Homo sapiens: one gene and its partner. The protein of the gene in region 2 purifies or fractionates together with the protein of the main gene of each other region. This does not show direct contact. Each region holds a gene or a part of one and is shown on either strand. Other genes may lie near its edges.

Region 1 (15,734 bases), about 100 Mb from region 2:
GGATGGGAGTTTGGACACACCTTATTATACCCCTCCTGCTTTGGCAGTTTAAACACAACCAACCAGCAAAAAGGTTAAAATCAACATCGTAAGACTGACAGAACAGACTCTGTGGCAAACAAGACCAAGGGCCACCTGAGGTGAGGGTTAAGTCACACACCGCCTACACTTAAAGAATAAACTACAGTTCCAACTGCCAAAGCATTTCTTTTTCTCCAGCAGCTAAATGTCCTTTTAGGTTATTCACTAGAGACCTCTGCAGAAACTCGTTTTTGAGATTCAAGAAGTAAATAAAGGATGTTTTTCTTTTTCTCTATTGCTTATCTTGGCCTCAAGCTCGCGCACGCAAGAAGACTCTCTCTCTCTCTCTCTCTCTATATATATATATATACTTTTTTTTTTTTTTTGAGACAGGGCCTTCCTCTGTTGCTCAGGCTGGTGAGCAGTGGTGCAATCTCAGCTCACAGTAATCTCCGACTCCCAGCTTCAAGCATTTCTCCTGCCTCAGCCTCCTGAGTAGCTGAGACTTCAGGTGCGCCACCACGCCTGGCTAATTTGTGTATTTTTAGCAGAGATGGGGTTTCGCCATGTTGCCCAGGCTGGTCTCGAACTCCTGAACTCAAGTGATCTGCCTGCCTCCAACTCCCAAATGCTGGAATCACAGGCGTGAGTCACCATGCCTGACCAATATAAACAATATTAAAACACCTGCAGCTTCCTGTCAGATCCTGATGAACAGACCCCTCTGTTCCACCAGCCGTAACTACAGCTTTGACTGGGAAAAGACTGATTCCAGGCCAGGTGTGGTGGCTCACGCCTGTCATCCCAGCACTTTGAGAGGCTGAGGCGGGTGGATCACCTGAGGTCAGGAGTTTGAGACCAGTCTAGCCAACAAGGTGAAAGCCTGCCTCTACTAAAAATACAAAAATTAGCCGGGGGTGGTGGTGTGCGCCTGTAATCACAGCTACTCGGGAGGCTGAGGGAGGAGAATCGCTTGAACCCGGGAGGCGGAGGTTGCAGTGAGCTGAGATTGCACCATTGCATCTCAGCCTGGGTGAGAGTGAGAATCTGTCTCAAAAAAAAAAAAAAAAAAAAAAAACTGATTGCAATCACTTTATCCTGGTAACTACTCACCACGGACTGGTTCTGGCCGGTTGACAGAGGCTGCAGAGTTGCTTCACCTTTTGACCTAGGGGGCCTAACCATAATGCATTTAAATGTTAAGTCTCCGCTCCAAGGTGAACTCGGGAGTAGGTAACATGCATGTTTGTTCAATACCCATGCGTCAGGACACCCTTGGTGAATATCCATAGCTCTTCCTATAACTTCTTGAATATATACACTTGGCCAACCCACTCAGCATAAATTCCCGTCTCATCTTTTCTTCCCTCCAAGTGCTTGTTTTTAGTTTTCTTTTTTTTTTTTTTTTTTTTTTTTTTGAGATGGAGTCTTGCTCTGGTGCCCAGGCTGGAGTGCAGCCTCTGCCTCCTGGGTTCCAGTGATTCTCCTGCCTCAGCCTCCCGGGTAGCTGAGATTACAGGTACATTAGCCAGAGGCTGCGCTTCTCACCTGCGGTGTATAATCACCTTCTATGAAATAAATGGCGTTTCTTCTAAGAAATACAGTGGGATTTTGGGAGGCCGAAGCGGGAGGATTGCTTGGACCCAGGAATTCCAGAGCACTCTAGGTAACATAGCAAGACCTCGTCTCTGCAAAAATAAATAAATAAATAAATAAACAAAAATTAGCCTGGCGTGATGGTGCACGCCTGTAATCCCAGCTACTGGGGAGGCTGAGGCAGGAAGTCCAACTGTGTTTGCGCCACTGCACTCCAGCCTAGGAGACAGAGCAAGACCCTGTCTCCAAAGAATTGTAAAATAAATAAAAAACGGACCAGGCGCAGTGACTCACGTCTGAAATCCCAGCACTTTGGGAGGCCAAGGCGGGAGGATCACTTGAGGTCAGGAGTTCGAGACCAGCCTGGCCCACATGGGGGAAACCCAGTCTCTACTAAAAATACAACATCAGCCAGGCGTGGTGGCACGTGCCTGTAAGTCCCAGCTCCTCGGGAGCCTGAGGCAGGAGAATCGCTTGAACCTGGGAGGCAGAGGTTGCAGTGAGCCAAGATCGCGCCATCGTACTCCAGCCTGGGCAACAGAGCAAAACTCTGTCTCAAAATTAAAACAAATTAAAATAATAAAATAAAATAAAATAGGAAGCCTTTCTACCTTTATAAATTGTGTGATTTTTAGGTTAACAACTGTCAATGACGGAATGTTCAGTACGTGGGACTTTCTTGTCTGTATGTGTGTGGTGGGGGGGGTCGGGGCGGGGAACAGACTCAATATGAAACCGTTTTGGGGTCTGACGCTCGCCCACCAGCCTCCATCGCGCAGCCACACGCCCACTATGCGACCAGAGCCACCTGCGCAGTTGTTAGCAGAAGGAAGAGTAACTTACTACTCTCGTCCCTGCGGATCTACGGGTGCCTCGAACGTGGGGCGCGTTCCTGGGGCTGGAGGCGGCGCCCAGGGGCAGCGCAGGGCCCGGCCCGGGGGTTCCCGGGGGTTCGAGCCCGCTGGGCCGGGGGGCGGCGAGCGGGGCTGTGGGCCAGGCCCCGGGCTGCTCCCCGTCCCCCGGGGTCGGCTGGTCCCGCCCGGGCGCCTTGATCCGGCGCAGGCAGTCCTGCAGCATCCGCTGCGTGCTGGCCTCGCTGAGCCAGTACAGGAACAGCTCGTCCACCTTCATCTTCAGGACCGGCTGCAGCACTTTGCCGGGCGGCATGGCGGGGGCTGGGCCCGCGGCGCCCCCGGACGCCCGCGCCCCGCCCCGCCCCGGGGGCTTCGGTCCGCCCCGGACCGACCTCGGTGATGCGAGCACGGCCCGCTGAGGGGGCGCGGCGCAGGGAACAGGGCCCGCGCCTCGGGAACTGCGCGGACTCGCGGGGCGCGGGGACCGAGGAGGGGGCGCGGTCCGGCCCGCGCTGCTCAGGGCAGCTTCAAAACGGGCGCGCCGGCCGCGCTCCCAAACAAGGGCGCCCGCGTTCACGTCACTGCGTCGCGTCATCGCGACGATGTCATCACGAGGCGACGCCGCCGCTAGCCACGCGCGCCCCGCGGCCCTCGGAGCTTTTGCAGGAGGCTTTGGTGGGGCCGAGCGGCTGCGGTGAGGACGAGGGAGGGGCTGTGGCGGCCGTACCGCCCGAGCTCTTTCTGCGTTTAGGATTTTTAGAGGCGCGGCCCATGGCGGCGTGGCAGTCCTAGAGCTGCGGAAATGCGAGCATGCGCAATGCGTGCCTGCCAGAGCGAGGAGAGGGTGGAACCTCCGCATGGAGCATGCGCCGTGCATAGCGGTGGAGGAGCGGAGTTCGGGAGGCCGGTCGGGTGAGCGTGCGCAATGGCTGCCCGCGGGGCGCAAGCCAGAGGCTGGGAGGTGTGTGAGCGGGTGGGGCTGGAGGACGGGAGTGCGCCTGCGCAGTGGGAGGCACCGGGAACGAGCGAGCATGCGGGGTGCGCGCCCGCCGAGCTCGGGAGCGAGCGTGCGTCCTACGGGAGCGCGCGAGGAAAAGATCAAACTTTTCAATAACAGCGGGCTACCTGGGACCCAAAGGGCCCCGTTTACTTTAGCTTTGCTTATCAAACAGTAGAGACAGGTTGGAGGAGTTGGACCCCTTTAAACGTTGGTGTTCAGGGATGAGCGTGAAGTGCGTTGAAAATTGCAAAAATCATCCACGTCCAGGGAGGTGACATTAGTTAAATAACTTTACCCAATGGTCGTTTTTGTTTCTGCTTTTAACAGTATCCATAAAAACACTGCATTATCATCTGTCTGGCACACATGCACCTGTTTCCTTTACATCTTGCCCCGCTTTTTATTCATTTTTTATCAAAATAGGGTTTCACCTGGTGTTGCACCCTGTTAGAGAGTAATTTCAAGGTCTTTTATGAGCCAGGTTCTCCTACTTCTGAGCTGCATAAATCGAGCCAGACTCAATAAGTAACCCTTGGCCGGGCGCGGTGGCTCAAGTCTGTAATCCCGGCACTTTGGGAGGCTGAAGCGGGCAGATCACGAAGTCAGGAGTTCGAGACCAGCCTGGCCAGCATAGTGAAACCGCCCCCACCATCTCTACTAAAAATAGAAAAATTAGCCGGGCATAGTAGCGTGTGCCTGTAGTCCCAGCTACTCGGGAGGCTGTGGCGGGAGAATTGCTTGAACCCAGGAGGTGGAGGTTGCAGTGAGCTGAGATCACACCATTGCACTCCAGCCTGGGCGACAGAGCCAGACTTTGTCTCAAAAAAAAAAAAAATAACTCTTTTTTTAGTTTTATTTTTTTTTTGAGTTGGAGTCTCGCTCTGTCGCCCAGGCTGGAGTGCGATGGCAAGATCTCAGCTCACTGTAACCTCCGCCTCCCGGGTTCAAGGGATCCTCCTGCCTCAGCCTCCCGAGTAGCTGGGATTACAGGCGCCCGCCACCACGCCTGGCTAATTTTTGTATTTTTGGTAGAGACAGGGTTTCACCGTATTAGCCAGGATGGTCTCGAACTCCTGACCTCAAGTGATCCACCCGCCTCGGCCTCCCAAAGTGCTGGGATTACAGGCGTGAGCTACCACGCCCGGCCTAAATAACTCTTTTTGTTCGTATGAGACAGGGTTTTGCTCCGTCACCCAGGCTGCGATCTTAGCTGAGTGCAGCCTTGATCTCCTGGCTCAAGCGATCCTCCCACCTCAGCCTTCCAAGCAGCTGGGACAACAGGCATGCGCCACCATGCCTGGCTCATTTTTAATTTTATTGTTTATAGAGACGAGGTGTTGCTGGTCTCACACTCCTGGCCTCAAGCAATCTTCCTGCCTTTGCCTCTGTCTCTGCCTCCCAAAGCGTTGGGATTACAGGCGTGAGCCACCGCACCCGATTTAAATCACTCATAAACGATAGTTTTGTGTTGTGTACATAATGATTTGAATTTCAGTTTGTGTTTCGTGATTGGATATAAAAATCCGAGTGTACTTGGTCAGAAGAGCGCCATCACGCAGGAATTCTGTGAAGTTATTTTTCCTAATTGGGAAGCAACCGTTTGTGTGTGTGTGCGATGCTGTGATTTCTGGAGGGAAGTGAATATATTAATACAGTTCTCTGTTTGAGTATGTATCGGACACAGACGTCTTTTCAAGGAACAAACGTGCTTTTCATTCTGGGTGTTTCGATGAGCTGCGAGTCACTGTTGGAAGCATCACTGCAGTTTTGAGGGGAAAGGGTTTCCTTTGAATGCCTGCACAAGAGGCCTTTCTCTGCCAGGTTACTGGGGCACAGTGTAGTGAGGCCCAGGGCCAACAGGACAGAAATCAACTCAGGGCAGAAACAGAATGCGCCTTCAGTCTGCGCTGGGGCCCGGGGGCCCACTCCGTGCAGGCTTTGCTCTGGGAGAACAAAGAGGTGCTGTCGGGCCCCCAAGGCTGGCAGGGCCTGAGGTGTTGCAGAGTTTGCTGGGATGTGGCCAGCTGCAATTATCCAAGCTGCTCCACAGCCGGATGGACGCCCTGCCCATTCGGGTCTGTCCGTCTTGCAGGGGTGGTGGGTGGCCACCAGAATTGTCCTGGGGAGAGAAAGGTGAGGGCAGGCCGGGAGATTGCAGTGGCTCATGCCTGTCATCCCAGCACTTTGGGAGGCCGAGACGGTGGATCACCTGAGGTCAGGGGTTCAAGACCAGCCTGGCCAACATGGTGAAACCCCCGTCTCTACAAAAATACAAAAATTAGCCAGGCACGGTGGCTCACACCTGTCATCCCAGCACTTTGGGAGGCCGAGGTGGTGGATCACCTGAGGTCAGGAGTTCGAGACCAGCCTGGCCAACATGGTGAAACCCCGTCTCTACAAAAATACAAAAATTAGCCAGGCATGGTGGCTCACACCTGTCATCCCAGCACTTTGGGAGGCCGAGGCAGGAGGATTGTTTAAGCCCAGGAGGTCAAGACCAGCCTTGGCAACATGGCGAGCCCCATCTCTAGAGAATATTTAAAAATTAGCTGAGCATCCTGGCGTGTGCCTGTGGTCCCAGCTACTCGGGAGGCTGAGGTAGGAGGATCGTTTGAGCCTGGGAGGTTGAGGCTTCAGTGAGCCGAGATCTCACCACCGCTCTCCAGCCGAGGCAGGAATGAAAGACTCTGTCCCTAAAAGCATTAAATTTTAAAAAGCAGCCAGATATCGTGGCTCACACCTGTTATCCCAGCACTTTGGGAAGCTGAGGTGGGAGGATCACCTGAGGTCAGGAGTTCGAGACCAGCCTGACCAACATGCTGAAACCCCGTCTCTACAAAAATACAAAAATTAGCCAGACGTGGTGGCTCACACCTGTCATCCCAGCACTTTGGGAAGCTGAGGCAGGCAGATCACCTGAGGTCAGGAGTTCGAGACCAGCCTGGCCAACATGGTGAAACCCCGTCTTTACAAAAATAGAAAAATTAGCTGGGCATGATGGCGGGTGCCTGTAATCCCAGCTACTTGGGAGACTGAGGCAGAAGAATCACTTGAACCCAGGAGACAGACGTTGCAGTGAGCCGAGATCACAGCATTGCACTCCAGCCTGGACAGCAGAGCGAGACTCCCTCTCGAAAAAATAAAAATAAAAATAAAATAAAAAGCGAGAATGGGGAGGGAAGAGTAGCGAGGAAGATTCCGGAAGACTCTGCTCCTCTGTGGGATGTAGGTCCAGGAACAAAGAGCTGGGTCAGCGCTTCCCAGGGAGGTGAGGAAGGAGGGAGCCACAACGGTTGTAGAGGGAGAGAAGCTCCTTCCTTCATCCACCTGAGCCCGGGTCTCCTGTGTGGCCACAGCCTCTGCAGCCTCTGCCCCACCTGCAGCTGCTCAGAAATGCAAACTCACCCACTGTATGACATGCTCTGGATCTCAGTCGGCCTTCGCCCCGCAGACCTGGGTGGTTGATCGAACACTAAAGCTCCAGACCTGGAGATGCCTCAGAGGAAGCACCTGGCAAGTAGGATCTCCCTGGTCCTGCGCCGACCCAAAGCTCCCAGCTAGGTGCGTGCAGTGAGAGGTCAAAGAGGGATCAAGTTTATATCTGCCGCTTGCATTCCGCACGATGACTTAAAACAAACAAACAAAACAAACAAACAAAAAAAAACAAAAAACCCAGCCGAGCACAGTGTCATCCCAGCACTTTGGGAGGCCGACAGGGGTGGATCACGAGGTCAAGAGATCGAAACCAGCCTGGCCAACGTGGTGAAACCCCGTCTCTACTAAAAATACAAATATTAGCTGGGCGTGGTGGCGGGCACCTGTAACCCTAGCAACTCGGGAGGCTGAGGCAGGAGAATCACTTGAACCCGGGAGGCGGAGCTTGCAGTGAACAGAGATCATGCCCCTGTACTCCAGCCTGGCGACAGAGCGAGACTCTGTCTCAAAATGAATAAATAAATAGGAAAGTAGTGTGGGTCTGCATTCTGCAGGTTTTGGAAACACATTTCCGAGTGCATATTTCAGGTGAGGAGAGGTGGGGACTCCAGGCAGCGTGCACAGTTTAGACTCTAACCGTGGGCCGGGAGTGGTGGCTCACTCCTATAATCCCAGCACTTTGGGAGGCCGAGGTGGGCGGATCACAAGGTCAGGAGTTCGAGACCAGCCTGGCCAATATGGTGAAGCCCCATCTGTACTAAAAATCCAAAAATTAGCCAGATGTGGTGGCGTGCACCTGTCATCCCAGCTACTGGGGAGGCTGAGGCAGGAGAATCGCTTGAACCCGGTGGAGGCGGAGGTTGCAGTGAGCCGAGATCGCGCTGCTGTACTCCAGCCTGGGTGACAGAGCGAGACTCCCTCCCAAAAAAAGAAACCACCGTAACTGTGGCAGTAAGAGGCCAGGAACTCTCACAGATACCTCGTCCAAAACCGGCAAAGGAGAGGATGGAACATTTGCTGTAGAGGTTTTCCTGCCTCTTCATAACTCCTTGAGGCTGTGTCCTCATCCATCTTCCAGAAACCAAAAACCCTTCACACATCGCCCCTTTTGTCCCGAGCGGCGCCCGCTGCCACCTGCTTGGCAAAATAAAACGTAAGTGGAAAAATGCTCCCTTTTCCATTTTCCTCTCTAATTGAATTCTCTCCTGACCTCTCGGTTCCCCACGGCTGTGTTTCAGGTTTTGATGATAAGGAAAAGAACTCTGTATTTGGATAATACGATTTTCAGCAACCTTCAACTCAATTTCCTCTCCCCGGAGACAGTGTATCTTATAGGATAGAATGAAATCCCTTATTCATAGGGAAAAAGTTCCAATTTAATCTGAATATTCAGCGTGCCGCCGTGGCCGGGGTGATGGATGGCGTATGGAAATATCACAGTTCAAGCAATCAGATGTCAGAATGCACTCTGCTACTGGAAGAAATAATGACGCCTATCCAATTTTCTATAAGGCGCAGAAATGCACGTTGCATCGTGAGGACCCCGGCTTTCTCCTATTACCTTACTAATCACATCTCCATTTAAACACAGAACAGAAAAGGAAGCGTGGTCACAAATTAAGAATTAATGGAAGTGAGACTCCGCAATGGATTCGGGGCCGAGGGCCAAAGGCGGCCGCCACGTGCCGCTATTTACATGAAGTCACAGAGATGACGGGGATGAGCGGGGTCCCCTTGTCAGAAGCTGCTGGGCCAGATGAACCTGACAAGTATCTCCTAAGAAGGATTTAGAAAAGGGGAAGATGAAATCTTTGGAGGTAATGGAGAATTAGAAGCATGTCATTACCTATAAATCCTGCGGCCCTGCACACGCTGTTGACAGCCCGGAAGATGAGACTGGCTGAGAGGAAAAAGATTCTGAGCCTGGAACAAGCGGACCCAGATTCTAGGTGGCCAGGCTGTGTGGTTGCTTTTATCATTCCGGGAGACTTTCGGGAGGAAATGTTTGCAAAGAGCACGCAGATGGGGAAATGTTTGCAAAGAGCACGCAGATGGCATTTTCTTTTCTCTCTATTTTTTTTTTTTTGAGACGTAGTTTTTGCTCTTGTCGCCCAGGTTGGAGCCGCCTCCCGGGTTCAAGCGATTCTCCTGCCTCAGCCTCCCAAGTAGCTGGGATTACAGGCACCTGCCACCACGCCCGGCTACCTTTTATATTTTTAGTAGAGACTGGGTTTTGCCGCGTTGGCCAGGCTGGTCTCGAACTCCCGACCTCAGGAGATCTGCCCGTCTCGGCCTCCGAAAAGTGCTGGGATTACAGATGTGAGTCACCGCGCCTGGCCAGCATTTTGTATCACCCCTAACTGCATCTATTTTGGTGTTGTTCATGATAATAATAAATGTCATGCATATCTCTGATTGAACTTGGCCCGTGCTTGAGCTCATTAGAAACAGGTTTTCCTATGTGTCATCTCTTATTTTTCTTGGTAATACTTGGAGCTGAGATTTCTTTTTCTCTCTCTTTCTTCCTCTCTCTTTCTCTCTTTCTTCCTCTCTCTTTCTCTCTTCCTTCCTCTCTCTTTCTCTCTTCCTTCCGAGACAGGGTCTCACTCCGTTACCCAGGCTGGAGTGCGGTTGTACGATCACAGCTGCTGTCTTGACCTCCTAGGCTCAAGTGATCCTCCACCCTCAGCCTCCCGAGTAGCTGAGACTGCAGGCATGCACCGCCATGCCCGCCTAATTTTTTTATTTTTTTCTAGAGATGGGGTCTGACTATGTTGCCCAGGCTGGTCTCAAACTCTTGGCCTCAAGCAATCCTCCTGCCTCGACCTCCCAAAGTGCTGGGATTACAGGCGTGAGCTACCGCACGCAGCCTTGAATCCTTTTAATAAGTACTTTCCTCTTATCCACGACCCAGAACATCACACTGTAGACAGTTGTTTAGGGTTTTGAAAGATTTATATTTTTAATTTTTTTTTTTTTTTTGAGACAGTCTTGCTCTTTTGCCCAGGCCGGACTGCAGTGGCACAATCTCGGCTCACTGCAAGCTCCACCTCCCGGGTTCACGCCATTCTCCTGCCTCAGCCTCCCGAGTAGCTGGGACCACAGGTGCCCACCACCACGCCCGGCTAATTTTTTGTATTTTTAGTAGAGGTGGGATTTCACCGTGTTAGTCAGGATGGTCTCGATCTCCTAGCCTTGTGATCCGCCCGCCTCAGCCTCACGAAGTGCTGGGATGACAGGCGTGAGCCACCGCGCCCGGCCAATTTTTTTTTTGAGCTAGGATCTCACTCTGTCACCAGGTTGGAGTGCAGTGGTGCGATCTCAGCTCACTGCAACCTCCGCCTCCCAGGCTCAAGCGATCCTCCCACCTCAGCCTCCCAATTAGCTGGGACCACAGGCACCTGCCACCACACCTGGCTAATTTTTTTTGTAGAGACGGGGTTTTGACATGTTGTCCAGGCTGGTCTCAAACTCCTGAGCTCAAGCAATCTACTGGTCTCGGCCTCCCAAAGTGCGGAGATGACCACCATGAGTGACCGTGCCAGGCCTCTGTTTTTAATTTTGTAATTGAGATACATTCCACATAACATAAAAGGAACCGTTTTAAAGTGAACAGGGGCATTTAAAACATCCACAATGGCGTACCACCACCTCTGTCTAGTTCCGGAACACTTGCGCTGGGCATGGTGGTTCACGCCTGTCATCCCAGCACTTTGGGAGGCCGAGGCGGGCGGATCACCTGAGGTCAGGAGTTCAAAACCAGCCTGGCCAACATGACGAAACCCCATCTCTACTAAAAATACAGAAGTTAGCTGGGTTTGGTGGCTGGTGCCTGTAATCCCAGATACTTGGGAGGCTGAGGCAGGAGAATCACTTGAGCCTGGGAGGCGGAGGTTGCAGTGAGCCGAGATCACGCCACTGCGCTCCAGGCTGGGCCACAGAGCGAGACCCGGTCTCAAAAATAAACAAACAAACCAACAACAACAAAAGGTCTGGAGCATTTTCTTCACCCCAAAAGTAAACCCTGTCCCCATTAACAGTCATTCGTCCCCCTCCCCATCCCCTGGCAACCACCCATCCACTTTCTGCCTCCATGGATTTGCCTGTTCTGGACCTTTCCTAGAAATGGAATCTTACTCTATGTGGCCTTTTGTGTCTGGCTTCTCTCACGGAGTGTGACATCCTCAAGGCTCATCCACATTGCAGCCTGTGTCACAGCCTCGTTCCTTTTCATGGCTGCATACTATTCCACCATGTGGATGGACCACATTGTGCTAATCCACCCATCCACTGGTGGACACTTGAGTGGTTTCTGCTTTTGGGCCGTTACGAAATCCAGCTACTGTGAAACAGTTCACTTTTATTTTATTTTATTTATTTATTTTTTTGAGATGGAGTCTCGCTATCTCGCCTGTGCTATAGTGGCAGAATCTCGGCTCACTGCAAGCTCCGCCTCCCAGGTTCAAGTGACTCTCCTGCCTCAGCCTCCCGAGTAGCTGGGATTACAGTCACCCACCAGCATGCCCAGCTAATTTTTGTAGTTTTAGTAGAGACAGGGTTTCACCATGTTGGCCGGGCTGGTCTCGAACTCCTGACCTCAGGTGATCCACCCGTCTCAGTCTCCCAAAGTGCTGGGATGTTGCAGGCGTGAGCCACCGCGCTGGCCTCTAGGTGATTCTTTAACTAGAACGATAGATATCGGACTTTTGCTATGGGGTGGATTTTCCTCCTAATCTGAAATGAGGCAAAAAGTCTTAGCATGTCAGATGTGACGCCTTCTTTTATTTCGCTCAGCATAAATTTTAAGCAAATTGAGAATGGAGCCTGGGTACCCATTTCGGTAAAAGCTTTGTTTTTTTTTTTCTGCGTAAGACCTACATTTGACTCAGAGTGTAGTTGGTGAAATGCACATTTTTCTTAATGACAGAAGGACGTATTTCTTTCTTTCTTTCTTTCTTTTTTTTTTTGAGACAGACTGTCACTCTGTCGCCCAGGCTGGAATGCAGTGTCGTGATCTCAGCTCACTGCAAGCTCCGCCTCCCGGGTTCACGCCATTCTCCTGCCTCAGCCTCCCTAGTAGCTGGGACTACAGGCACCCGCCACCACGCCCGGCTAATTTTTTGTATTTTTAATAGAGACAGGGTTTCACCATGTTAGCCAGGATGGTCTCGATCTCCTGACCTCGTGATCCGCCTGCCTCAGTCTCCCACAGTGCTGGGATTACAGGCGTGAGTTACCGTGCCCGGCCGAAATGCACATTTTTCTGAATGACAGAAGGATGTATTTCTTTTTTTTTTTCTTTTTTTGAGACAGAGTCTCGCTCTGTCACCCAGGCTGGAGTGCAGTGGCGCGATCTCGGCTCACTGCAAGCTCCACCTCCCGGGTTCATGCCATTCTCCTGCCTCAGCCGCCTGAGTAGCTGGGACTACAGGCGCCCGCCACCACGCCCGGCTAATTTTTTTGTATTTTTAGTAGAGACGGGGTTTCACCGTGTTAGCCAGGATGGTCTCGATCTCCTGACCTCGTGAGCCGCCCACCTCGGCCTCCTAAAGTGCTGGGATTTACAGGCGTGAGCCACTGCGCCCGGCCAGAAGGACGTATTTCTGATAGCCAGGGGTAGTGATTTACAGCACTGTAGTACAGAAAACTGTTTTTTTCCTCTTTGTAAAAGGAGTAGTTGCTGATTGGAGAAAACTTGGGAAGTACAGAGAGTATTCAAAAATCAGGGCTGGGCTTTGGGAGGCTGAGGCAGGCGGATCACAAGGTCAGGAGTTCGTGACCAGCCTGACCAACATGGTGAAACCCCGTCTCTACTAAAAATACAAAATTAGCTGGGTGGGGTGGTGGGCACCTGTAATCCCAGCTACTCAGGAGGCTGAGGCAGGAGAACCACTTGAACCCAGGAGGCGGAGGTTGCAATGAGCCGAGATTGCACCACTGCACTCCAGCCTGGGCAACAGAGCGAGATGCCATCTGAAAAAAAAAAAAAAAAAAAAAAAGCCGGGCCGGATGGCTCCTGCCTGTAATCCCAGTACTTTGGGAGGCTGAGGTGAGAGGATCACTGGAGCCTAGGAATTTGAGATGAGCTTGGGCAACATAGCAAGACCCCATCTCTACCAAAAAGCAAAATTAGCTGGGCATGGTGGCCCATGCTGTAGTCCCAGCTACTCGGGAGGCTGAGGCAGGCGGATTACTTGATCCCAGGAGTTTGAAACTAGTCTGGGCAACGTAGTGAGATGCCATCTCTACCCCCCCCCCAAAAAAAATTAGCCCAGCATGGTGGTGTGCACCTGTAGTCCTAGCTACTCGGGAGGCTGAGGTGGGAGGATCACTTGAGCCCAGGAGGTCAAGGCTGCAGTGAGCCGAGATCACACCATTGCATTCCAGCCTGGGCAACAGAGCAAGACCCTGTCTCACATAAAATAAAATAAATAGGCCGGGCGCAGTGGCTCATGCCTGTCATCCCACACTTTGTGAGGCCGAGGCGGGCGGATCACGAGGTCAGGAGTTTGAGACCATCCTGGCCAACATGGTGAAACCCCGTCTCTACTAAAAATACAAAAAAAAAAAAATAGCCGGGCATGGTGGCGGGCGCCTGTAGTCCCAGCTACTCGGGAGGACGAGGCAGGAGAATGGCGTGAACCCGGGAGACGGAGCGTGCAGTGAGCCGAGATCGTGCCACTGCACTCCAGCCTGGGCGACAGAGCGAGACTCCGTCTCAAAAAAAAAAAAAAAGTCCAGACATGGTTGTTCAACAGCACAGAGGGACGTCTTGCTGAGAAGTGGCCGGACGAGGCTGCCCCAGACACCGCAGCCCTCTCCTCCTGCCCCCCACACCCTCCAGGACTGAAGAGGCCGTAGGCTCGGCCGGCAGCATCTGCTCCCTTTGTCCTCCAAAGGAACCCGTGTGTGGAAGGAATGCCTCCGGGGAGAACAGCTGACGTCCGGTGCCGTTTTGGCAGCACGGAACCCCAGTTATTTTCAGATGTCTTGTTCGTGCCCCAGAGGTCAGGGACCAGCAGCTTTCAGGAAGCCTCGGCCAGGCACTGCGTTAACTCCGCGATGACTTTCTGGCTGCAGAATCCCAACTATGCAATTCACTCTTAATCCCCAGCTTCAAGGCACTGTCAGGCGTTTCCGTGACAAAAACTCTCTCTTTTTTTTTTCTTTTCTTCTTTTGTTTTTTTTTTTTTTTTTTTTGAAATGGAGTCTTGCTCTGTCACCCAGGCTGGAGTGCAGTGGTGTTATCTCTGCTCACAGCAACCTCCGCCTCCCGGGTTCAAGCGATTCTCCTGCCTCAGCCTCCCGAGTAGCTGGGACTACAGGCACCCGCCACCACGCCCGGCTAATATTTTGTATTCCTTGTAGAGATGGGGTTTCAGCATCTCTACGCTATTTCCAAATAAGGTCCCAGGCTGGGGGCGGTGGCTCACACCTATAATGTTGGCCAGGCTGGTCTCGACCTCCTGACCTCAAGCGATCCACCCGCCTCGGCCTCCCAAAATGCCGGGATGACAGGCGTAAGCCAACGCGCCCGGCCAGAAACCTGCTATATTCTGCACCGTTTTTCCGGGTCCAGGCAGACGTGGGTCCCTGTGGTTTCAGAGCACAAGTGGTGTTTTATGGAATCATCTTCGCTGTGGCAAGCACACTATGGTAGATGGGATAGGGTGGGTGTTGGTGGTGAGGAAGAGGTCGTGCCCGTCCGTGGATGACGTGGGAAGCTCTCGAAGAGTTGCTGGCATTTGTACCTGTTTGCACGCAGCAGCGCTCTGAGTGGCAGAGACAGGATGTCCCCCAGATCCCACGTCCCCGCAGTTGTTAGTGAGACGGATGCCTCGGGATGTGCCTTGGTCTCTGGTTTGAGAACGTTTCTGTTGACTTGCCATTTTCTAACCACGGGGCGCACAGCAGAGTCAGAACTGGGTTACAGAACGTGGGCTATGGACTCCAGTTGCCTTTCTGACCTACTTTATTTTGTTTTGTTATTTTATTTTATTTATTTATTTATTTTTTGAGACGGAGTCTCGCTCTGTCGCCCAGGCTGGAGTGCAGTGGTGCGATCTCGGCTCACTGCAAGCTCCGCCTCCCGGGTTCACACCATTCTCCTGCCTCAGCCTCCCGAGTAGCTGGGACTACAGGCGCCCGCCACCACACCCGGCTAATTTTTTGTATTTTTAGTAGAGACGGGGTTTCACCGTGTTGGCCAGGCTGGTCTCAAACTCCTGACCTCAAGTGATCGGCCCACCTTGGCCTCCCAAAGTGCTGGGATTACAGGCGTGAGCCATCACGTCCGGCCTTCAAGTACACTTTCTGTTGAATGCATACTGCTTTCTCTCCAGCATAAAGTTAAAAAATCCTGAATTGCACCATTGGAAGCTGGGGACTGTCTGTATGCAATATTATGTATAGTTTGATTTCTTTTTTTGCATTTTTTTTTTAAATTTTTTTGAGACAGAGTTACACTCTTGTTGCCCAGGCTGGAGTGCAGTGGCACGATCTCAGCTCACTGCAACCTCCACCTCCCGGGTTCAAGCAATTCTCCTGCCTCAGTCTCCCAAGTAGCTGGGATGACAGGCGTGAGCCACCACGCCCGGCTAATTTTGTATTTTTAGTGGAGATGGGGTTTCTCCATGTTGGCCAGGCTGGTCTCGAACTCCTGACCTCGTGATCCGCTCGCCTCAGCCACCCAAAGTGCTGAGATAACAGGCGTGAGCCACCGTGCCTGGCTAATTTTGTATTTTTAGTGGAGATGGGGTTTCTCCATGTTGGCCAGGCTGGTCTCGAACTCCTGACCTCGTGATCCGCTCGCCTCAGCCACCCAAAGT
Region 2 (15,667 bases):
GAAAAGGAAGGAAGAATAAAGAAAGGAAGAAAGAGAAAAAAGAAAGAAGGAAAGAAAGAGACCTGCACTTATACCCCCTACATATGTAAACAATTTTTAAATAATTTTGAAAAAAAAATGTCCATGGGACATCAGCATAATTTATTTTTGTGCTGCTGACATTTTGGTCATGTAGTAATCAAGCTGTTAATAACTAGTCACATTTATTGCATCATTCTCTTAGTAAAAAGCTATTTTTAAAGCAAATTAATACCTCCTTTGGAGTTATAGTTTCTAAAGAAGGATCAAGGATGAACATTTAAAATGGAAAACAGCAGGGTGAAATAAACCATGAACAGAACGTTCAAATTAGTTGTGATCTCAACATGGATTCTTTGATTATGGAGAGAGAAAAAAGCATTTTTTAAAAGGACAAGCTGTCTTTAAACATGTACATTGGGAAGATACCAAAAGCTACTGAAAAAATGACACTGTCAAGATGAAAGTGATTTAAAATCCTCTATCTGTTATTGCATAATAGACTAGAGGTAGCAGTCAAATATGCTCTTCTAACCAGGCAGCATCCGGGTTCATCAGCCTGTGAGAGAACCATCCTCAACTCCGTGCTTCCTCCTGGTCACCTCCACACCCCTGTGCCCTACCCACTCCCTCCCTCCCTCTTCTGTTTTTGATCTGCCACTTCCCCAAGCTTCTCAGGTTCTGTAACCTTGACCTGAGCCCTCCTTTCTGCAGGCCTTGAATTCTGTAGCACCCATGAGACTCCCCTAAGTATCCCTCCTATTTGATAGAGAGGTATGTTTCCATGACAGCAGTGTTTTCAAGTTGTGTTTGTTTTTTCTTTTTTACTTTCCTTTTTTTTAAAAAAAAACCAAACTCTTTCTTAAAATTGTAAGCAGGTGTTCATAGATAGATATAGTCTGCTTTGGTTGAAATAGGGGCAGGAGCATTAATCCATCTTGAATTGATTTTTGTATAAGGTGTAAGGAAGGGATCCAGTTGCAGCTTTCTACATATGGCTAGCCAGTTTTCCCAGCACCATTTATTAAATAGGGAATCCTTTCCCCATTGCTTGTTTTTCTCAGGTTTGTCAAAGATCAGATAGTTGTAGATATGCGGCATTATTTCTGAGGGCTCTGTTCTGTTCCATTGATATATATCTCTGTTTTGGTACCAGTACCATGCTGTTTTGGTTACTGTAGCCTTGTAGTATAGTTTGAAGTGAGGTAGTGTGATGCCTCCAGCTTTGTTCTTTTGGCTTAGGATTGACTTGGCGATGCGGGCTCTTTTTTGGTTCCATATGAACTTTGAAGTAGTTTTTTCCAATTCTGTGAAGAAAGGCATTGGTAGCTTGATGGGGATGGCATTGAATCTGTAAATTACCTTGGGCAGTATGGCCATTTTCACGATATTGATTCTTCCTATCCATGAGTATGGAATGTTCTTCCATTTGTTTGTATCCTCTTTTATTTCCTTGAGCAGCGGTTTGTAGTTCTCCTTGAAGAGGTCCTTCACATCCCTTGTAAGTTGGATTCCTAGGTATTTTATTCTCTTTGAAGCAATTGTGAATGGGAGTTCACTCATGATTTGGCTCTCTGTTTGTCTGTTGTTGGTGTATAAGAATGCTTGTGATTTCTGTACATTGATTTTGTATCCTGAGACTTTGCTGAAGTTGCTTATTAGCTTAAGGAGATTTTGGGCTGAGACGATGGGGTTTTCTAGATATACAATCATGTCATCTGCAAACAGGGACAATTTGACTTCCTCTTTTCCTAATTGAATACCCTTTATTTCCTTCTCCTGCCTAATTGCCCTGGCCAGAACTTCCAACACTATGTTGAATAGGAGCGGTGAGAGAGGGCATCCCTGTCTTGTGCCAGTTTTCAAAGGGAATGCTTCCAGTTTTTGCCCATTCAGTATGATATTGGCTGTGGGTTTGTCATAGATAGCTCTTATTATTTTGAAATATGTCCCATCAATACCTAATTTATTGAGAGTTTTTAGCATGAAAGGTTGTTGAATTTTGTCAAAGGCCTTTTCTGCATCTATTGAGATAATCATGTGGTTTTTGTCTTTGGCTCTGTTTATATGCTGGATTACATTTATTGATTTGTGTATATTGAACCAGCCTTGCATCCCAGGGATGAAGCCCACTTGATCATGGTGGATAAGCTTTTTGATGTGCTGCTGGATTCGGTTTGCCAGTATTTTATTGAGGATTTTTGCATCAATGTTCATCAAGGATATTGGTCTAAAATTCTCTTTTTTGGTTGTGTCTCTGCCAGGCTTTGGTATCAGAATGATGCTGGCCTCATAAAATGAGTTAGGGAGGATTCCCTCTTTTTCTATTGATTGAAATAGTTTCAGAAGAATGGTACCAGTTCCTCCTTGTAAAAAAAAAAAAAAAAGAAATAGGGGCAGGAGCAGGAGCAGGAGCACTGCCCAGTTAGCCTTCCCCTCATACCCTGTAGGAACACCTGAGTTTCTGGAAACCAGTTTGAAAACAACTGCCTAATAGTTTTCTTTATTGCATGTTTCCTTTATTGGGTCTGGGTAGTGTGCCCTAGATGGGGTTATCAGATTTATTTAATAAAAATACAGGATGCTAAGCTAAATTTTAACTTCAGACTTTTTAAAATAAATATTTTAGTATACCTGTGTTTCATACAGTATTTGGAGCATACTTACATAAAAAAATAATTTGTCATTTATCTGAAACTCAAAGTCAGTTGGGCATTCTGTACTTTTTCTGGCAACCCTAGCCCTAGAGAATATCAGGGCATTGGGTCACAAAGAAGCTGGAATCAGAGATAAGGAAAACAATAGAGATTCTATCCGTGACAACCGTGATACTCACCCCAAGGATTTTTCTTGTGTAGTAGTATTTGTCGGCCTTCTCATATTTCAGGAAGGCATCCACAAACAGGAAAACATTCAGCCCTAACCAAACAACCTAGAGAAAGAAAAAAAAACATGCAAAGAATAAAGTGAAATTTGAGTATGGGAAGGAGTAAATAAGGGATAGGGATAGCAATAGTGTCGCCGTTTTGGCTATTTTGTGTTTACCTGTTTTCATTTTAAATGAGTGCAATCCTGCTAGTATCTAACTGGCTTTCAGAGTGAGTTAGCACTTTGAGACATGCATTAGACTAGAGCAGGGTCAGCAAACTGAGGCCCATGGCCCATTACCTGTTTTGCCACAGCCTGCAAGCTCAGAATTGTTTTTTATATTTTATATTTTCAAATTTGCTAATGGTTGAGAAAATCGAAAGAAGAATATTTTGTGGCATGTGAAAGTTATATGAAATTCAAATTTCAGTGACCATAAATAAAGTGGTATTGGAACTTAGCCACTGCTACTCATTTTTGTATTGTTTATGGCTGTTTTTGTGATACAATGACGGAGTAGAGTAGTTGGGACAGAGACCATATGGCTTGCAAAGCCTAAAATATGTACTATCTAGATTTTTACAGAAACATTTGCCATTTCTTGGACTAGAGCATTCAAACTGTTGCACCTAAAAGATGGCAATAAGTGAATAAATGGATATCTGAAGAAACAAAGAACAAATTTAGCACCTATAACAATACCTAACTGAAAAGAACTAAACCATTCCAGATGGGCCTGCCTTTTTAATTACACCCTGACACACATTTTTCTGTTTTCAGATTGTGAGTCTTTTTTCAAATTAATCTATTTTTCCTTTGGACTTTTTTGAGCTCTTAAGACTGCTTTTGCCTGTTCCAAGTTCTGTCTCTGCACTGGCTAAAGGTGAAATTTGGAACTCACTGCCCATTGCCTTGAGGACCAACCAACTGGTCTCTAGCCCAAGTGTGGAGGTGCTAGTCTGTAATTCGACAGGTCTCCAGGGCGCTAGTATATATCCCTCGCCCCACAGTATGAGTCAGAACCATCTCAGCACAACAGGCAAAGGGCCTTTAGCCTAGGACATGGCCTATTCAGACTCCCTAGATCTAGACCACTCACACACCTTTAGTACTATAATATAGTGATTTAAAGTGTGATATTGGAGTCAAGTTGTAGCATCACCAATTAATAGCTCTATAATCTCAGACAGACATATGATTTAAATTTTCTAAACCTCAATTTCTTCACCTGCAAAATGAGGATAATAACAGGACCTACTTTATAGTAATGCTATGAGGCTTACGTCAGATAATGCGTGTAAAGTGATTAATGCAATGCTTGGGGCTTAGTAAGAGATCAATAAGTGCTAGCTACAGAGTTGTGTCACCACCGAACCTGCTTTACCAATCAATTTCTTCCTGCCTCCTTTGCTCAGTTACCCTTTTCCAGAGCTGAGTGTCTTCCAGAGAAACGTCTTTGAAAGAAAAGAAAGTCAACAGTCACAGACACCTCAAGAATTTGGAAGACAGAGGAGAGAAGTTTATTTAGAGGGAGCAGAAATATTTCTGGATCGCAAAGAGACACAGGGGCAAATAACTGTGTCAGCCCATCATCAATTGTAGGCAAGGCAAATGATGAAATACAGTGATATCTAGGAGTAAGGCATTCCATTCCCCATCTTAGCTGTCATTTCCTCCACTATGAACGTCAAAGAAGGTAAACTACAAGACCTGGGAGGAAGGAGGAATAAAACTATTTTTAAGTAATTTATTTTTTATTTAAAAATCAGTGCATAGGAGTATATGTCAGAGATAATGAGAAGTCTAAGCTTGCCAGCTGGTTTGGTGGGGGATGAAAATTCAAAGCTAGAGAGTTAAATGTGAGTCACCATCATAGCTGGTAAACTCTCCCAGCAAAAAATAAGAGAGGGGGAAAAAATGCAGGTAAATGTGGATTTTAGAGCTAGAAACACCCTTATATTTGTATCTAATCTAGTCACTTTATTAATCCCCTGCTCCCCTCCCCTGCCCAATTCCCCCCACCTACACACCCACAGGACCTGAAGTCTAGAGAGGATAAATAATTTGATCGAGATCACCCAGTTAGTAGCAGAATTCAAAGTACTTGCCAGGTTCCCTTTCTCCTAAACTAGTGTTCTTTCCATTATAGTGCAAAAGGAACTCAATATAAGGCATTGAGCATTTAAAATATGTCATGGGATAACCTGACAAAATAAGCACTTTTGTTAAATGTAAAACAAACAACCCTCCAGGGAAACTCCACATATTTTTCCCTGGAGCACCTGGTCGGGGGGCGGGGGGGTAGACAGGAATAAAAAGAAGCATCACACCTTCTCTCTTCTGTTTTGCCTGTGGGACCCAAAAGCAAAACAGGAGAAAAGAGAAAGAGTAATGAATGAAGATCTAGGAAAGTGAGAAAGGACACAGGGAGCCCCAGGCTCAACTGTGGCTCAGAAATGGAAGAATGAGAGTGGAGAGAGGTGTTAGAGTGTTAGGAGAAAGGGATTGTGCATACAAAGGGTGATAAAGGGGTTCTGGCCTGAACGTCATTGGGGAGCTGGGTTCGAGTGATGCCAATTCAGTCAATTCATTGTGTGACATCTAGGTCTTATTTTCCTTTGTACAATCAATAAGTTGGTTTACATCTGCACTATGCAATGCCACAGCCACTACCCACATGGGGCTGCTGAGCACTTGAAATGTGGCTAGTCCTCACTGAGATGTGCTGTGGGTATATATACACATCAGATTTGAAAGACTCAGTAAAAATAAAAATATGTAAATTAGCTTCTTAATATTTTCAATATTGAATACATACTGAAAGGATTTGTTGATATGTTGGGTTAAATGAATTATATTGTTAAATATTAACTTCACCTGTTTATTTTTACCTTTTCGGTGTAGGTATTAGAAAATTTAGGAATTACATTATGTGGTTTGCTATATTTCTAGTGGTCAGTACTGGGCCAGATGATCTCTAAGATCACTTTCATCTCAAACATTCAGTGACTTTTTGAAATCTTGATGGGACCAGTATAGGAAAGATAGAGAGAAATCAGCACTCATGGTAGTAGTTAGAAGTGAGATGGAAGAGAAAGGGAGATGACAGAAAATGAAAACAGATTGAAATTCCAAATACTTGTGATTTGACAACATGAACAATTGCATGTTATTTGCCTCTGTCCTCTCATCTGACCCACAGTTGTATTTTTTAACTAACTGGTCTTGATGAGCCCAATAATCGGCATGGAATCATCTTTCTCTTTCAAATTGCTTTACAAATATTAAAAAACATGATTTCTCCTTAATCCTTCCTAATTAATAGGAAGTCAAACATCACTTACCAGAAACAAAACTGAAAACCAGTGGTTAACCACCCAGTTTCCCATTGTCAAGAGGTGGTTTGGAGCCCTTCTAGGCAACAGGGAAGATTCAGCAATCCGGATTCTGGAGAGGTCCTTCAGGAATGGAACATTTGTCCAGCGCAGGGTCTGTGAGCCTTTAAGATGTGAAAAACACACACCTACCCCAAGAGTTCCTGGGAATGAATAAGTTTATTCTGCCTTCCTTCTCTGGACAGAACTGTGCTATCAGCTTAGATAGACCAGCCCTATCTATGAGAACCACAAGGGTTTTACCTGTGGGGATTTTACTGCTTCAGGAAATAGCAACATTCTTGGATGAAAATATTCTCTCTCATCATCTTATCAACATGACCTAATGTGAAGCATTGCCTTCCTAGATAAAAGATTTGCTAAAGTTTCTCATAAAAAAGATTATTAGTCTGGGTCTGTAAACAGATTACTTCAGGAGAAGTAGGGAGGGAAGCGTGTGTGGTAAGGAAGCTGTTTCAAAGTGCACTTTTCAAACTGTTGCCACATCTGCCGGCTGCCATTTGGATTTCAGCCTGGCTAGCTCAGAAACTTTAGCATACCAGTTCCCCTGGAGGATGATCTGTGGTTGACATATATGATGATGGCTTTGGGGAGAACTTGACTGGCTGGAAGGACAAGTGAAAAGAAGGGCCAAATAGAGCAAGAGAAAATTTAACAAGTATAAAAGTGCACTTTGGTTCAAAATAAACAGAGGCAGAGCACTCAAAAGAATGGAGATGATTGTCTTCTAGTATGATAGATTTACTAGAGTTGTGTGTTCAGCTCTGGGCACTGATTTTTTTTCCCTTTTCTAAAATGGTGAAATATACACAGAAGAGTATATAAAACATACATATGTAACTTAAAGAATAATTTTAAGGAATAAGTATCTATGTGTTCACTACTCAGATTAAAGAAAATAGACTATTTTTCTCCAGTATCTTAAAGCTCTTTGTATTTCCCTCCCTGATCACATCTATCTTCTTCCCCTCCTCTACCCCACCGGATGTAATCACTATCCTGAAATTTGGGGTAATCATTCTGTTATTTTTCTTTATATTTTTACTAACTATAATTGCATCCCTAAGCAATATATTGTTTAGTTTTTCCTGTTTTTGAACTTTTTGTAAATGAAACCTGGCAGTGTGTATGTATGCTTCTGTGGTTTGCTTCTTTCAACATTGGGTTTTTGAGATTCATACATGTACATGTAATTGCGGTTCACTTACACTGCTATCTAATATGCCATTGCATGAATGAATATACATTAATGTATTCATTCATCCTACTACTGATGGATATGATGATGGAACAATGTTGATCAAATGTCACACATATGCTACAGTTTCTCTAAGGTATATACCCAGGAGTAAAATTCCAGGGTCCTGAGATTTGCACATATTCTACTTTGCTGTGTAATTCCAAACCCGTTCCGAAGTGACCACCTAAATGTATACTACAGAGAGTTATGAATGAGAGTTCTACTTCCTCTACATGCTTACCAACCCTTGGTATTTTCCAGACTTTTTTGTTTTTATAATTCAAGTAAGTGTGGAAAACTATCGTATTATGATTTTAATTTGCATTTCCCTGATTACTAATGAGTTTGAGCATCTTTTAATTCAACTGCTGGCCATTTGAGTTTTCTCTTTTTAAAAGAGCCTATTCTGAGCCTATTCTACTTTTTGGTCTATCTTTCTATTGGTTTTTCTTTTGCTTTTAGATTCTTAGGGTTCTGTTTATAATCTTATACTAATCTTTTATTGCTTATGTTTATGGCTTGTCTTTTCAGTCTCTTAATAGTGTTTTCTGATAAATGGAAGTTCTTAATTTTAATGCACTCTGATTACCAGTCATTTCTTTTATGATTTATGCATTTTATGTCTTGTTTTAGAAATCCATCACTACCCAGATATCAAGATACTCTTTTATATTTTCTTCTAGAAATTTTATATTTTTGCATTTTACATTTATGTTTTGAATCCACCTGGAGCTGATTTTCATGTATGGTATCCAATTTACTACTTTTAAATATGGAAAACGAATTGCCCCAGCATCATTTTTGAAAAGTACTTTTTATTTTTATTTTTATTTTTTTGAGACAGGGTCTCACTCTGTCACCCAGGTTGGAGTACAGTGGTGTGATCTCCCTTCACTGCAACCTTCACCTCCTGGGTTCAAGTGATTCTCATGCCTTAGCCACCCGAGTAGCTGGGATTACAGGCAAGCGCCATCATGCCTGGCTAATTTTTGTATTTTTAGTAGAGACAGGGTTTTGCTGTGCTGGCCAGTCTGGTCTTGACCTCCTGGCCTCATGTGATCCACCCACGTGGGCCTCTCAAAGTGCTGGGATTACAGGCATGAGCCACTGCGCTCAGCCATTTTTGAAAAGTACTTTCAAAAATATACTTTCTTCGCTGATCTAAAATGTCAGTTCTATTATATATGAAATGTCTATATACACGAGTTTCTTCCGGAGCTCTCCATTCAGTTCTTCCATGCCACTGCCTTAATTACTAAGTCTTGACATCTGATAAGACAAGTTTCCCCACCTTGTTCTTCAAGAGTGCTTTGGCTATTCTTGACTTTTTGTTTGTTTGTTTCTTTGTTTTGGGGGGAGGGGGGGTTCTGTGTTTTGTTTTTATTCTTGGCCTTTTTCATTTTCATGTAAATTTTATAATCAAATTCTTGCGTCTCCTTTGTTATATTCACTTCTTCTTCTTTTTTTTTTTTCTTTGAGACGGAGTCTCGCTCTGTCGCCCAGGCTGGAGTGCAGTGGTGCAATCTCGGCTCACTGCAAGCTCCACCTCCCGGGTTCACGCCATTCTCCTGCCTCAGCCTCCCGAGTAGCTGGGACCACAGGCGCCCGCCACCACGCCTGGCTAATTTTTTCTATTTTTTAGTAGAGACGGGGTTTCACTGTGCTAGCCAGGATGGTCTCGACCTCCTCACCTCGTGATCCGCCTGCCTCGGCCTCCCAAAGTGCTGGGATTACAGGCATGAGCCACCGTGCCCAGCCTGTTATATCCACTTCTAAGAACTTTATATGTTTTCATGAGGTTGTAAATTATATATTTTAATTTTAATTTTTAATGATGGCTGTTAAAGATACAATTTGTTTTTACATATTGATTTTTATGCCCAGCAACATTGCTAAACTCACTTATTAATTGTAATAATATTTCTGTATTTTGTCTTACATTGTCTATAAACACAGTCACATTTTTCGCTCTAAACACAGTTTTATTTCTTTTTTCTAATTCTTTTTTTTTTTTTTGAGACGGAGTTTCCCTCTTGTTGCCCAGGCTGGAGTGCAATGGCTTACTGCAACGTCTGCCTCCCGGGTTCAAGCGATTCTCCTGCCTCAGCCTCCCGAGTAGCTGGGACTACAGGCGCCCACCACCATGCTCGGCTAATTTTTCTATTTTTAGTAGAGACTGGGTTTTACCATGTTGGCCAGGTAGGTCTGAAACACCTGACCTCAGGTGATACGCCTGCCTCGGCCTCCCAAAATGCTGGGATTACAGGCGTGAGCCACCGTGCCCAGCCTTCTTTTTTCTAATTCTTATAACTTTTATTTCTTTTTCTTCGCTTACTGCACTCACTAGAACTTCTAGTACAATGCTGCACAAAGGTAGAAGTAGTGATCCCCTTGCCTAATTCCCAATCTCAAAGGGGATTCTTCCATTTCACCCTTAAGTAGAATGTTTTGTATAGGTTTTGTAGATATACTGCTACATATTTTTATTTTACTTTACTTTAGGCACAAAAGCAAATATTTATTTAAAACAGAAAAGAAAGCACAGCACAATTAACAGATTTATTGAGGTATAATTTATATGCCATGAAATGTTCCCATTATAAGGAGTATAGCGCAATGCACAGCACATTTTATATTTATTGTAAAAAGCTGAAAAATCTCTTCAACATCACAAAACCCATAAAAACAACATTTTCATTAGCTGCTGAACACACCTGCAATTTAGTATCATAATGCCAGGTGAAATTGGCACAGTGGGTGGTAGGAGTTTTCCTGGAAGCCATTTCTACACTAAGGCAGCTATCAATCAGTTAACTAGATATAGAAGTGTCAGTGAACCACATAATATATATTCTCCTAAATCCAAACTAAATATACCACCAACACAACAACCTCTTATCTGTATTCCAGAAATGCTCATGGCCACTCCAGCATCACTTGACCTGAGGGGAAGTGTGACAGAGGGAAGTTGGAGTGGTAAGAGACAGTCAATCACTAGCAATGAAAATATTTTACATTTGTAAATTTTACAAAAACACTTGCCCGTGCCCAAGACCACACATTAAAAGAGAAACTAAAGCCTGTCCATGGAAGGGTGACCAAGATGATGTAATGAGTTGAAAGCATCCTATATTAGGAGGATTTAAAGAGTGTAGGGAATTTGGCCTGGAAAGAGGTTTATCGGGGACATGAGTTTATCTACATTTTTTTTAAGAAGATTTAGATTGTTTTGTATGTGACCCAAGGAGTCAACCAAGGAATAGAGGCTCTAAAGTAACACACTTTAGGTTGGGCATGGTGGCTCACGCCTATAATCCCAGCACTTTGGGAGGCTGAGGCGGGCAGATCACCTGGGGTCAGGAGTTTGAGACAAGCCTGGCTGGCCAACATGGCAAACCCCCATCTCTACCAAAAATACAAAAATTAGCCTGGCATGGTGGTGCATGCCTGTAGTCCCAGCTACTCGGGAGGCTGAGGCACTTGAATCGCTTGAATCCAGGAGGCGAGGGTTGTGGTGAGCCAAGGTCACGCCACTGCACTCCAGACTGGGCGAAAGAATAAGATTCTGTGTCAAAAAATAAAAATAAAAATAAATAAAGTAACACAATTTTTTTTCAATATAAAGCAGAATTTTCCAACACGGGTATTCAGAGAAGTAAAGAGGTAATGAGTTTCCTATTACTTGAGACTCTCAAGGAAAAATGGACAACCCCTTGTCAGCTTTTTATAAGGGGAATATCAGCACCAGGTAGATGGTTAACTAAATGTCCCTTAAATATACTCCAACATTGAGATCCTGTGATTCATAAAAGAATGATCTATAATCTGGATGACAATTTATGTATTATCTAAAGAATTATATATGCCATGCTGATTGGACCCTTATGTCTGTGAGGTAGGACCCCCATTCCCAATATCAGAGTACTAGGAAGTCTTTTGATAAGCTGGTGATCACAGAATCTGAGCTAAGATAGTCAGATGATCTTAACGGAATATTACTATTAAGCTGCAGCAGCAAACTCACTTGGCCCTTTTCAAGGTAAGATTACACCAGCAAATTCAACTAAAATATCCATGCCCCAAATCTGAAACCTCCCTCTCTTGGGCAATGCCGGACACACTAAAAACTTCTCACCATCAAGACATTTATGTGGCCAACAAACATACGAAAAAAAGCTCATCATCACTGGTCATTAGAGAAATGCAAATCAAAACCACAATGAGATGCCATCTCACGCCAGTTACAATGGTGATCATTAAAAAGTCTGGAAACAACAGATGCTGGCGAGGATGTGGAGAAATAGGAATGCTTTTACACTGTTGGTGGGAGTGTAAATTAGTTCAACCATTGTGAAAGACAGTGCGGTGATTCCTCAAGGATCTAGAACCAGAAATACCATTTGACCCAGCAATCCCATTACTGGGTATATACCCAAAGGATTAGAAATCATTCTACTATAAAGACACATGCACGTGTGTGTTTACTGCAGCACTATTTACAATAGCAAAGACTTGGAACCAACCCAAATGCCCATTAATAATAGACTGGATAAAGAAAATGTGGCACATATATACCATGGAATAGTATGCAGTCATAAAAAAGAATGAGTTCATGTCCTTTGCAGGGACATGGATGAAGCTGGAAACCATCATCCTCAGCAAACTAACACAGGAACAGAAAACCAAACACTGCATGTTCTCACTCATAAGTGGGAGTTGAACAATGAGAACACATGGGCACAGGGAGGGGAACATCACACACTGGGGCCTGTTGGGGGGTGGCAGGCAAGGGGAGGGAGAGCATGAGGACAAATACCTAATGCATGCAGGGCTTAAAAACTAGATTATGGGTTGATAGGTGCAGCAAACCACCATGGCACATGTATACCTATGTAACAAACCTGCACGTTCAGCACATGTATCCCAGAACTTAAAGTAAAATAAAAATAAGTTAAAATAAATAAACAAAACTTCTCACCATCAACCTCCCTTTTTTGTAAATTCTCCCAGAATTGCTTTCCTTCTGTTGGCTCTAGACATTATAATAGTCCCCTCCACCCTGTATTGCTTCACCTGTCTTAATGTTTGCATTTCCCAGGTTTATGGATTATGCGGCATTGACTAAATTTGAGGTTGCTTCCTGGAGATCTCTAGGGAGTACTTAAATGTCATCAGTAACTTATTCACAGTTTTACCATAGACTGCAGTCTTTTGGAAAGATTTCCTGTAGACGGTTGATCCCACCCATGGTAGGTGGATTCTTGCAAACTGTAAACACAAAGCCCTTACCTGACCTGCATGTTGTGTCTTCTCCCTGATCACTTGTGTCTGTCCTCATTTGTCCCAAATTTGCCTTTACAGTTACAACTCTTGTACACCTCTTCCAGGAATTAATATATAACAGAGAGTGTTGAATTACTTAACAGTTTAAACATGTGCTTAGGACATCAGAAAAAATTGTTTTGAGAATTATTTTAAGAATTTATAAAAGAATTTGATGGTTGGTTTTCAAAAACAAAAATTTAAGTAGTCATGGGGAAAATGATAGTTTGTTTTACTTATTTTATTGTTTATAATTACGTTTAATTTGAATCCATAGAGGATGGTGTTGGGAGGACATTCGTTTATTTATTTATTTATTTACTTATTTTAATTTTATTTTTTTTAAGACGGAGTCTTGCTCTGTTGCCCAGGCTGGAGTGCAGTGGCGCGATCTCGGCTCACTGCAAGCTCCGCTTCCCGGGTTCACGCCATTCTGCTGCCTCAGCCTCCCCAGTAGCTGGGACTACAGGCGCCCGCCACCGCGCCCGGCTAATTTTTTTTGCATTTTTAGTGGAGACGGGGTTTCACTGTGGTGTCGATCTCCTGACCTCGTGATCCACCCGCCTCGGCCTCCCAAAGTGCTGGGATTACAGGCGTAAGCCACCGCGCCTGGCCCATTTGTTTCTTTTAAATCTTAGAGCCTTTAAAGGTATTAATTTGGTCTTGATTACAGCGTCCAAAAATGAAACATCCCATAATGATAAGAGGGACTGATACATGTGGAATTATTTGAAATCAATTCTTTTTACTATGTTGGAGCAGAACCAGACCTCACCAAAGTAGCACCTTGTAAAGGCAATATGGTATGATGGAGCTGGATTTGACCTCCAGCTCCCCACTCACTATTAATGCTCCCTTGGAAAAGTCTAACTTTGCTCAGCCTCAGTTTCTTCATCTGTAACCTAGCGTACTGATCCCTCATGGAGAAAGTGTTCAAATTGTAGCCTATATTGATAGGCAGAAGGCAAAGTGGTGGTACGGAAGAGATGGTAGAGCAGTATGGTGTACTGGTTAGATATAGATTCCAGAGCCAGTCTACCTAGGTTTGAAGCCTGCCTCATTATCCATAAAATGGGTTGTTATAAGAATTAAATGAGTTAAAGTATGGAAAGCAATGAGAACACTGCCTGACATATAAAAAGCACTCCATAGTTGCTTGCTATAATAATGATGATGATGATGAGCCCTAAGAAAATATAAGCAGAGGACCTAAACTCAATGGTACTTTCTTTTGCTATTGAAAAGGGGAGCAGAAACTATAGATCAGAGACCATTATTATACAAACTTTGTAAGATTATGAAACTTTTGTCACTACCTTATGTCCGTCGGTTTTACCCTGTTTTCTCCAGAGTTTAGCAAATTTTAAATGAGCCTGTGTGCTTGGCTTCAATAGTAGCAAGAAACTGGGAAGGTGCAGAGTTTGTGTCTCATTCTGCAGCTAGGCTTGGGGAGTAATTACCAAAGAAGAAAACAGGTGGTATCCCCATGGCCATAAGGAAGAAAGAACACTGGGGGTGGCCCTAGGCCTGGAAAGGGGCCTGGGGACTCAATGATGGAAAGGTTTATGTAGTTCCCTGTTCTCCCTACTTCCATCACAGGGCTGTGGTGAGCATCAAATGAGCTGGTATGTATAACAGTGATTTTTAGGCCAGTAAGTATCATGGAGACATCACTAGAATAGCAATGAGTACTTTCATGTTACATCTGCTACTTTGGAAATCTGCCCTCAAAAGTGTATATGTGAGACTTATTCAGCTCAGAAACAATATTCAACTCTTGCCTTTTCTTGAAGACCGATTAAGCTCTGCCTCTTCCAGGAAGTCTTCTCTGACCACCTCAGTCATCATACCACACTGTCTTCCAATTTTTATAGCATGACATAGCATGAGTTCCTCATCTTCTTACCTCTCTCATAGCCTGTGAAACCTCCCATTGTTATTTACCCTTTTCTGAGCAAGTCCTATCTTATCCAGATTGCTCCTTAAGGCAGAGCACAAAGCTCTCTATGCACAGTAGATGTTCAATAAACATTTGTCATGTGATGGTGTGGTAGGCAGAATAATAGCCCCCTAAAGATGTCCACATCCTAAGCCTGTGAATACGTTACCTTGCATGGCAAAGGGGAATGAAGGTGGAATTAAGGTTGCTAATCAGCTGACCCCAAAGCAGGGAGATTATTATGGATTCTATGGGTGGCCTAATGTAATCACAAGGATCCTTAAAAATGGAAGAGGGACACAGAAGTCAGAGTGATGAGATATGAGAACATGACCCACTCTTACTGACTTTGAAGATAGAGAAAGGAAGCCAGGAGCCAAGGAATGTGGGCTGGAACTTCTCCCCCAGAGCCTCCAGAAAGGAATGCAGCCCTGTCAGCACCTTGATTTTAACCCAGTGAGACCCAATGCAGAATTATGACAACCAGAACCATAAGATAATAAGTGTGTGTTGCTTTAAGCCACCAAGTTTATAGTAATTTGTTATAGCAGCAATAGGAAAGTAATACAGATGGTAAAGAAAAGACTTTCCTGCAACCATATTTACTGGCTCTGAACTGACTACTCTGCCTGGGAAAGAAGATAAGCCGGGTGCAGTGGCTCACACCTGTAATCCCAGCATTTTGGGAGGCCGAGGCGGGCGAGTCACTTGAGCTCAGGAGTTTGAGACCAGCCTGGCCAACGTGGTGAAACCCCATCTCTACTAAAAACACAAAAAATTAGCCAGGCATGGTGGCGGGCACCTGTAATCCCAGCTAACTACCTGGGAGACTGAGGCAGGAGAATTGCTTGAGCCCTGGAGGCGGAGGTTGCAGTGAGCTGAGAT

The links.
Region 1: the proteins of NOX1 (region 2) and PPP2R3B purify together in Homo sapiens (affinity purification with mass spectrometry; 2 studies listed by BioGRID and IntAct, with this or other methods). This does not show direct contact.

The regions. Positions count from the first base shown.
Region 1 is NC_000023.11:383,908-399,641, forward strand, and holds the start of PPP2R3B (serine/threonine-protein phosphatase 2A regulatory subunit B'' subunit beta), read right to left. Parts: upstream 3,001-15,734; 5' UTR 2,785-3,000; coding exon 2,461-2,784; intron 1,199-2,460; exon of another isoform or gene 1,135-1,198; intron 1-1,134. UniProt on the Homo sapiens protein: The B regulatory subunit might modulate substrate selectivity and catalytic activity, and might also direct the localization of the catalytic enzyme to a particular subcellular compartment.
Region 2 is NC_000023.11:100,867,865-100,883,531, forward strand, and holds the start of NOX1 (NADPH oxidase 1), read right to left. Parts: upstream 6,496-15,667; 5' UTR 6,276-6,495; coding exon 6,231-6,275; intron 2,951-6,230; coding exon 2,855-2,950; intron 1-2,854. UniProt on the Homo sapiens protein: NADPH oxidase that catalyzes the generation of superoxide from molecular oxygen utilizing NADPH as an electron donor.